Linked DNA regions of Homo sapiens. The protein of the gene in region 1 interacts with the protein of each later gene in a pairwise test. Each region holds a gene or a part of one and is shown on either strand. Other genes may lie near its edges.

What was found.
Region 2: the proteins of NEK1 (region 1) and PPP2R5A interact in a two-hybrid assay, tested with the Homo sapiens proteins (one study listed by BioGRID).

Annotation. Positions count from the first base shown.
Region 1 is NC_000004.12:169,476,495-169,480,325, reverse strand, and holds part of NEK1 (serine/threonine-protein kinase Nek1), read left to right. Parts: intron 1-791; coding exon 792-923; intron 924-1,945; coding exon of another isoform or gene 1,946-1,954; exon of another isoform or gene 1,955-2,802; intron 2,803-2,828; coding exon 2,829-2,894; intron 2,895-2,973; coding exon 2,974-3,202; intron 3,203-3,831. UniProt on the Homo sapiens protein: Phosphorylates serines and threonines, but also appears to possess tyrosine kinase activity. Involved in DNA damage checkpoint control and for proper DNA damage repair.
Region 2 is NC_000001.11:212,347,763-212,351,593, reverse strand, and holds part of PPP2R5A (serine/threonine-protein phosphatase 2A 56 kDa regulatory subunit alpha isoform), read right to left. Parts: intron 3,206-3,831; coding exon 3,097-3,205; intron 2,406-3,096; coding exon 2,352-2,405; intron 1-2,351. UniProt on the Homo sapiens protein: The B regulatory subunit might modulate substrate selectivity and catalytic activity, and might also direct the localization of the catalytic enzyme to a particular subcellular compartment.

The DNA.
Region 1 (3,831 bases):
TCAGAGGTATGCCTGTATTGTTGTAAAGTGAAGGTCTAGAAGCCTAAATATTAAGATTGTATTATTACTGTATTTTTAGAAGATACTCAATAAATATTGTGTTTGAAATGTATACTCCCCAGAAAGTCTTGTTTCCTAGATTGAGGAAGACTAGGAATAGGGAGTAGGGAGTAAACTTCCTGCTGTGTTACTATTGTCATACCCATAAATGTCATTTCCTTGTATTAATTCAGGTTTCATAATCTTACTTTGTTTAGAGTTTAAATGGCAACATAAAAACAAGCACATATGTTAATACAACATGATGTTTTCAGTGAAGTAAATCTTATTACCTGGATCTGTTTCTCCTTCCATTCTCATTTATGTTGGCATTTTTATGAGGGCTCTTATGTTGAGTAATTGATATTTGAACTTTGAGAAGATTGTACCCAAACCTGCAGGAATTACAAAAGCATTTCTTTTAGAAGTGTAAGATTAACAAAATCTTACACTTGAATCTTTAAAAGACAGTTTTTCAGGATCATTTCATGAAACATTGATAATGCAATGAAAGCGGGTTATTTAGGACTATGTGACATGACTATGTGTACATCTGAGACCAGAGATTTTTTTCTCTAGTCACTGCTGTATCCCCAGCATGTAGCATCATAATGCCTTGCTCAACAGATAATTCAGGAATGAAAAAAACTACTTGTGGATAGAGTGGATAAATAGTGATCTGGTAGGTACCATTTTATTTCTTCATACAAATATAAAATCCCTAATGTATTTAATAAAATCCTTTTTTATAGTTGGTGGCTAAAGGAGTTAAGAGTTCTGATGTTTCTCCACCTTTGGGACAGCATGAAACAGGTGGCTCTCCATCAAAGCAACAGATGAGATCTGTTATTTCTGTAACTTCAGCTTTGAAAGAAGTTGGCGTGGTAAGTTTCCTAAGATTCAGAACTCCTCAAAGTCAAAAGATTATTTAAAAGGAAATTAAATTTAATGAAATCACATTAATCCCTAATGTCCCTTTCAGGTTTTTCTAAGGAAAAAAATTACTTTTTAAGGGATTTTAGTTTACTCAGAATACTGGAGCCTCATTGTTTATAAGTTTTATATCTAGGACCACGTGGTAGATGAAAATATATCACAATAACTCTTATATTACTTTAAAAGAATATTGAAAAAATAAAATATACAGAGAAATGTACTGAAAATAATACTATAAACATTTTTCTACCCAACCCTCATGATTAACAAATGTTCACTTTAAAAAGAATAATGTCTCTTTGGTGCTAAAGTAGCTCTAGGTATTAGGTCCAACACATATTTACATTTATTCAAATTTTGTGACATGGCAAATGTTAGAGGACTCAGTAGAACTAGTTAATTCATCAGTTATTCCTTTTACCTTCTACTTCTGAATCTCTGTCATGCCCTACAGATAGTAAAACAAAGAAACATAGACAAATAAAAAGCTTAAACTTAGAAGTATATTTCAGGTATCTGTCTGAAGTGTGAAGACTGTTCAGGGGTTAAGAGAAGTGGGCTCATAGTGTGGAGCTGCGGCCTAGAATTCAACAGACAGGAGGAGAAAAGTCTACTGAATCAGATAACATAATAACTTCATTTTCCCCTTTCCTGGTAATGGATGTCTGTGCTTTTTATTTGTTTAGTTTCAGTAAATATTTGCAGACAAAATTGGTACACTAGCTGTTTTTTTTTATAGCCTTTGGGTTGATTTTGAAAATAAAACTCAGTAGGAAAATATAAGTTTCTTGATCATTCTCAAGAACTTCATGTAAGAAACTATTGTTCTTCAAGTAGGCTTAGTCACTTTTTCTTTCTGATAACGACTTTGCGTGTGCCACGTTGTTACTCCAACTTTAGATACCACTGTGTGGTCCCTCCTTGGTACCCAGTCTCACATCTCAATAGCTGTTCATCTCTCTGGTTGTAGGACTGCTAATTCCTGACTACTTTACTGGGTAAAATGTTCTTTGTCTCATTGCTTCATATATTACTTTGAAACTGACCACCAAATTTTTAATTTTTTTTAAGTATTACAAAATTCGAGGTAATCCATATAACTGAACGGTTTTCTTTCTGTGTTGTGTTGGTAAATGTCACTTACTTAAAACTTAGAAAATTGTTCTTTGAATCTTCTACATGCCTTTGCTTTCATAGCTTTCGTAACTGCTAATTTCTTCTTTTCGTATGTTTTTTAATTTTAGATAGTCTGGATTGCTTTGACAATGCTAATTAGGAGATAACATTTATGTCATTTGTAGTACAAATGACTCAGAACTAATTTTTGTTACACTCTTTGTTTAGGGAGGAAAGCCACTTCTCAATTACATTTAGTACTATGGCTTAACAAGGATATATATACATGAAACATAAAGACAGTTTTAGAATAACACAGCCTATTTTGAATTACTTCATCTATCAAAACTTTTTCTAGTTATAATTAAGAGAGTATATGAATTTTCCTCTAATTTCTACTTTTTCCTCTAATTTCTACTTTTTCCTCTAATTTTCTGACTTAAATTACCAAAAAATCAGGTACCAAAGAGGAAGAGGATATAGTTAATTATGTGAGCAGTAATCTAAAAATATGACAAATAATTGAGAATTGGCCCCTGTCTATGTTGTCTAATTAATAATATTTAAAGGTTAGTCATTGCTGATAATGAAGGAAGCTTTGTTAACATTTTATAGGAATAAAAAATTTACAAGGAACAAATTAATGAAAACCAAAAAGTAACGAGGATGTAATATTTTTAAAGGTAGATTTAAAAAAATAAAATTATCTCTTCCTCTGTATCTATCTGCATTTAAAGGACAGTAGTTTAACTGATACCCGGGAAACTTCAGAAGAGATGCAAAAGACCAACAATGCTATTTCAGTAAGTAAAATTTTCAAAGTTTATCAATCATTTTACTTAATGATATACATATTAAAATATATAATGTCGTGACTTTCAGAGTAAGCGAGAAATACTTCGTAGATTAAATGAAAATCTTAAAGCTCAAGAAGATGAAAAAGGAAAGCAGAATCTCTCTGATACTTTTGAGATAAATGTTCATGAAGATGCCAAAGAGCATGAAAAAGAAAAATCAGTTTCATCTGATCGCAAGAAGTGGGAGGCAGGAGGTCAACTTGTGATTCCTCTGGATGAGTTAACACTAGATACATCCTTCTCTACAACTGAAAGTATGTATAGTAGTATATTAATATCCTATTTAGGTCTAGTACATATGTAAACTTATAGACTAACCACTCTGAAAAAAATGAACACTTAGAAGAATTGAGAGAAGCTGAAAGAATTCTATATATTTTCCTTTTGGGCGAATAGAAGTGCCTCCCTCTCACAGTGAAATGTGAAGAGCAGAGAAAACTAATCAAACTAATCAGCCTTAATAGCAAGGATTTTTATTACAAAAGTGTATAGTGTGAGAGAGGGAACTAATGATACATATTTAAATTGCATTACTTTAACTCTGTATACCATGTTAAATTAATCTGTTACTATGAATAATTCTTGATGAGAACCAGGGTAGTGTCTCAGAAACATCTCTTAGGCATTTAGCGAGAGTATTGAGAAAATCTGACTTAATGATTTATATATTCGGTGATAATTACTGAGAATCTATATTTCTTACATTGTTCTAGGAATTGGAGATATAGGAACAAAACAGAAACATATGTGCTCTTGTGGAGCTTACATTCTAGAAGGGCAAGTCTGACCATCAACAAATCTGATTTTAAGTAATTTTTTTCACAGACTGTTTTTGTAGAATTTTTTCTTGCATTGGAAAAAAGCCCAAAGACTTGATAGCATT
Region 2 (3,831 bases), on another chromosome or scaffold:
TACAGGTGCCCGCCATCACGCCCGGCTAATTTTTGTATTTTTAGTAGGGATGGGGTTTCATCATGTTGGCCAGGCTGGTCTTGAACTCCTGATCTCAGGTGATCTGCCTGCCTCAGCCTCCCAAAGTGCTGGGATTACAGGCTTGAGTAATAAACTAACAAAAGCTCTGAGCTACTTATAATTTGTAGAAAGCTTTGATAGGAATGCCTGCTTTCCAGAAAATTAGTATTAAGGCTTAAACCCAAGTAATATGGCCGTAATTTTGGTGCTGGAATGGCCTATGTTAGAAATTGCAAGATCTCTATATCGAGAGATCTTTATGAGTTGGAAAATATTTTCCTTTCTTAACCTGGGTATTTATCTTACTCTCTCTCCTCATCCTGCTCCTATTTTCATTAACCCAACTCAGCCAAACCAGATAAAAGCTGAATAACTGGCCATCATCCCTCTCCCTAATCGTCAAGGTTTTTTGTTTTTTTGTTTTTTTTTTTGTGTCATCTCGGCTCACTGTAACCTCCGCCTCCAGGGTTCAAGTGATTCTTGTGCCTCGGCCTCCCTAGTAGCTGAGATTACAGGCACACGCCACCATGCCCAGCTAATTTTTTTTTTTTTTTTTTAAGTAGAAATGGGGTTTCACCATGTTGATCAGGCTGATCTTGAACTCCTGACCTGAGGTGATCCGCCTGCCTCGGCCTCCCAAAGTGCTGGGATTACAGGCATGAACCACCATGCCCAGCCTCTATCTTCCATTCTTTAAAAATAAATCACCTGTCTTCCTTATCCACCCCAAATTAATTAAATAAAATTTTATTTGTATACTATTTACCAAGCATGAACCATGACTTTTCAATATGTGTTATTATGGGTTTTCTTTTTCTTAATTCTAATGGGAGTTATCATAGATTTGTATTAAGGTTTTACTTTTTTCTTTTTTTTTTTGAAGACAGAGTCTCACTCTGTTGCCCAGGCTGGAGTGCACTGGTATGAGCTCAGATCACTGCAACCTACGCCTCCTGGATTCAAGCAATTCTTGTGCCCTTGCCATCTGAGTAGCTGGGACCACAGGCCTGTGCCACCATGCCCAGCTAATTTTTGTATTTTAACTAGAGACAGGGTTTCACCATGTTGGCCAGGCTGGTCTCAAACTCCTGGCCTCAAGTTATCTGCCTGCCTCAGCCTCCCAAAGTGCTGGGATTACAGTTGTGAGCCACTGCACACCTGGGAATCAACTTCAGAGGTTTATGTGGTTTCATGTACAAATATATGGTTTCTAATTCTCCTGAATTGTCTTCAAAAACTGTTTACAGCTGTTTCTAGAAAAGACTGTAAATCTAAAAGTCAAAAAACTAATAAAAATTAAGGAGTGGAAAAATGTCTTTTGTTCCATTACACAAAGTTCAAGTGAAAGGGAGAATACTAAGTATATGATTTTTTCAAGCATCCCTACGGATAGCCTGAGAAGGTTCATAATATAGTAAAAATACATATATATTTTAGTTTTTCAAACCCTTTGCTATTTACTAAATATTTATTAGGTTGCTGCTAAAGTGATTGTGGTTTTTGCCATTAAAAGTAATGGCAAAAGCCGCAATCACTTTTGTACCAACCTAATACTAGGTAAATATTTAGACTGAACATGCCTAGAAAGCATTCTCTCAAAATACTTACTTCACCAAGGTTAAAATGTTTTCTATGCTTTTATACTTTTCTGTTTCACCCTACTTCATCTTTTGTTTTTCTTGAATCCTCAGTAAATTTTCATAACTAATTATGTTTTCACTCTCTCCTGAATTTTCATTCTAGAGGCAAATAACAGTAGAATTCAAAGCCTAAGTTGCCTTGCTGGTTCATAAACTACTTTTATTCCAAGATTACATCTTATATCTTAATCACCAAAAGCAAGGAAATGTTTTCTATCCCTATCAAGTGGTTTATTGTTAATGAGTGGCAAAAATTCTATTATTAAAAACAAAACAAAATTCAAGGGAGTAGTAGTTTTGGGACCCTCGAAGTATGCTTTAATTCCAAAAGGTGAATGAAGATTTAAAAGATTATTGGTGAAGACAGTATGCATATAAAATTTCACTGTGGTCATCTGATCCTATCATCGTACATCTTAACTACTACATATTAATAGTAGTCTATATTTCGGTTATTCAAGACATAACTCACGAGAACTCTCCCCTCCTAACCCCTTCTTTTAATGTAGATTAATCTCACATTTCTTCTTCTAAATGATTTTAGCTTAACGTACATTATTCTACTTAATAACTATAAAGGCTATAAAACGAAAGCTACAATGAAATGCTATTAATGCAGACCAAAAACATGAAAATAAATAGAACACTTACTGGCTCTGTTAGTGTTGTATCTTTCTCCAGGAACTGTACAACACAATATGCTAGCTAAAAGGTAAGGGACAGTTTATAAATATTAGTGAGATAACATTTAATAATGTAGGATTTTTATATTTAGCCAATATTTTTTAGACTACCTCATTTTGATAAATTATTCCAATATATAAAAATATACTCACAACTGTGAATGAAATTGTGAAATACCTCAATCGTGAAACTATACTCACAATTGTGTAACTTTTTAGCCTTGAAAGTAACTTCAAGTTTAAAAAACATTTTTAGTAGTAATTTCTGACTATAAAGTTAACTGAAATAAGACTAGAGCTAACAATTTAGTTTTTCAGCATGTTTCTACATGTACACCTATGCTGATATATTATTCTCTAAATATTAATAGAAGAGACCAAAATCTCTCTAACTAGGTCTAGGTTATTGCAGCTGGAAGAAACATTCTGTAGATATGTGGGATTTATTCAAAGTCACATAATTAGGTCAAGACCTGGACTATAATATGAGGAAAGTGTGTATCTTAAACTGTAAGTGTAGATATAGAAATTAAATAATTGGTCTTACTTAACAACTAAATACTTTAAAATAAGAAAAATTTGCTTTGGGTAATTTTGTAAGCAAATTGCTTAATTATACTTAAAACTGTCATCTCAGTATTTCTCAATTTCTCTGCCTTTATATTGGCCTTTGAAATAATATTCATTTCATCTGAAATGTTTCTGAAACTTACCTGAGCATGAAACAAAGCTAATCCTTTTGCAGTATGCATAGGAATAAGAACCTTCATTAGAAATTGTTTATGTTCTGCTTTCAGTGGCAATGCAAAGCCATTGATAATACTGGAGGGAAAAAAAGGCAGGGGAAGGGTTAAGTAGTTACTACTTTGTTTCTAAAAGCTGTCATATCCATGAGTACATAAGGAACAGTGCTATGCTTCAATCCTGGTGTTGTATGACTGCTCATCTTCAAACTACTTTAGGAAGACTATTACTATGAAGTCTGTTCCTCTAAGTCATTTGATGATTCCAAAAGAAAATTAGGACTGTCAATTAATTCCCAAGTAATTTCTATCTTCATTTTCTATCAAACCTGTCACTTTATGCATTGTTGCTTTTATTTTTGCCCCCAAAGCTCCAGGAGAGTCAGTACCACAATATTGTTAGAATGTTCAATATTTTTCTGAAGTAAATGGGTAATTTTTCTTACTTTGTTGGATAACGTGAAAGAAGTAGTTCTCTCCACAATCATTTTCTACTATTAATAAAGGAAACTAAAATCATTGTCTAAATAGTAACAGAAGGGTCTAAAATTCTCTTAATACTAATACGTAGTGAATAAGGAAGGCAAAGTGTTATGGCAAAAGGTAATAAGAATTCAGCTGAGGCTGGGCATGGTGGCTCACGCCTGTAATCCCAGCACTGTGGGAGGCCGAAGGGGGTGGATTGCCTGAGGTCAGGAGTTCAAG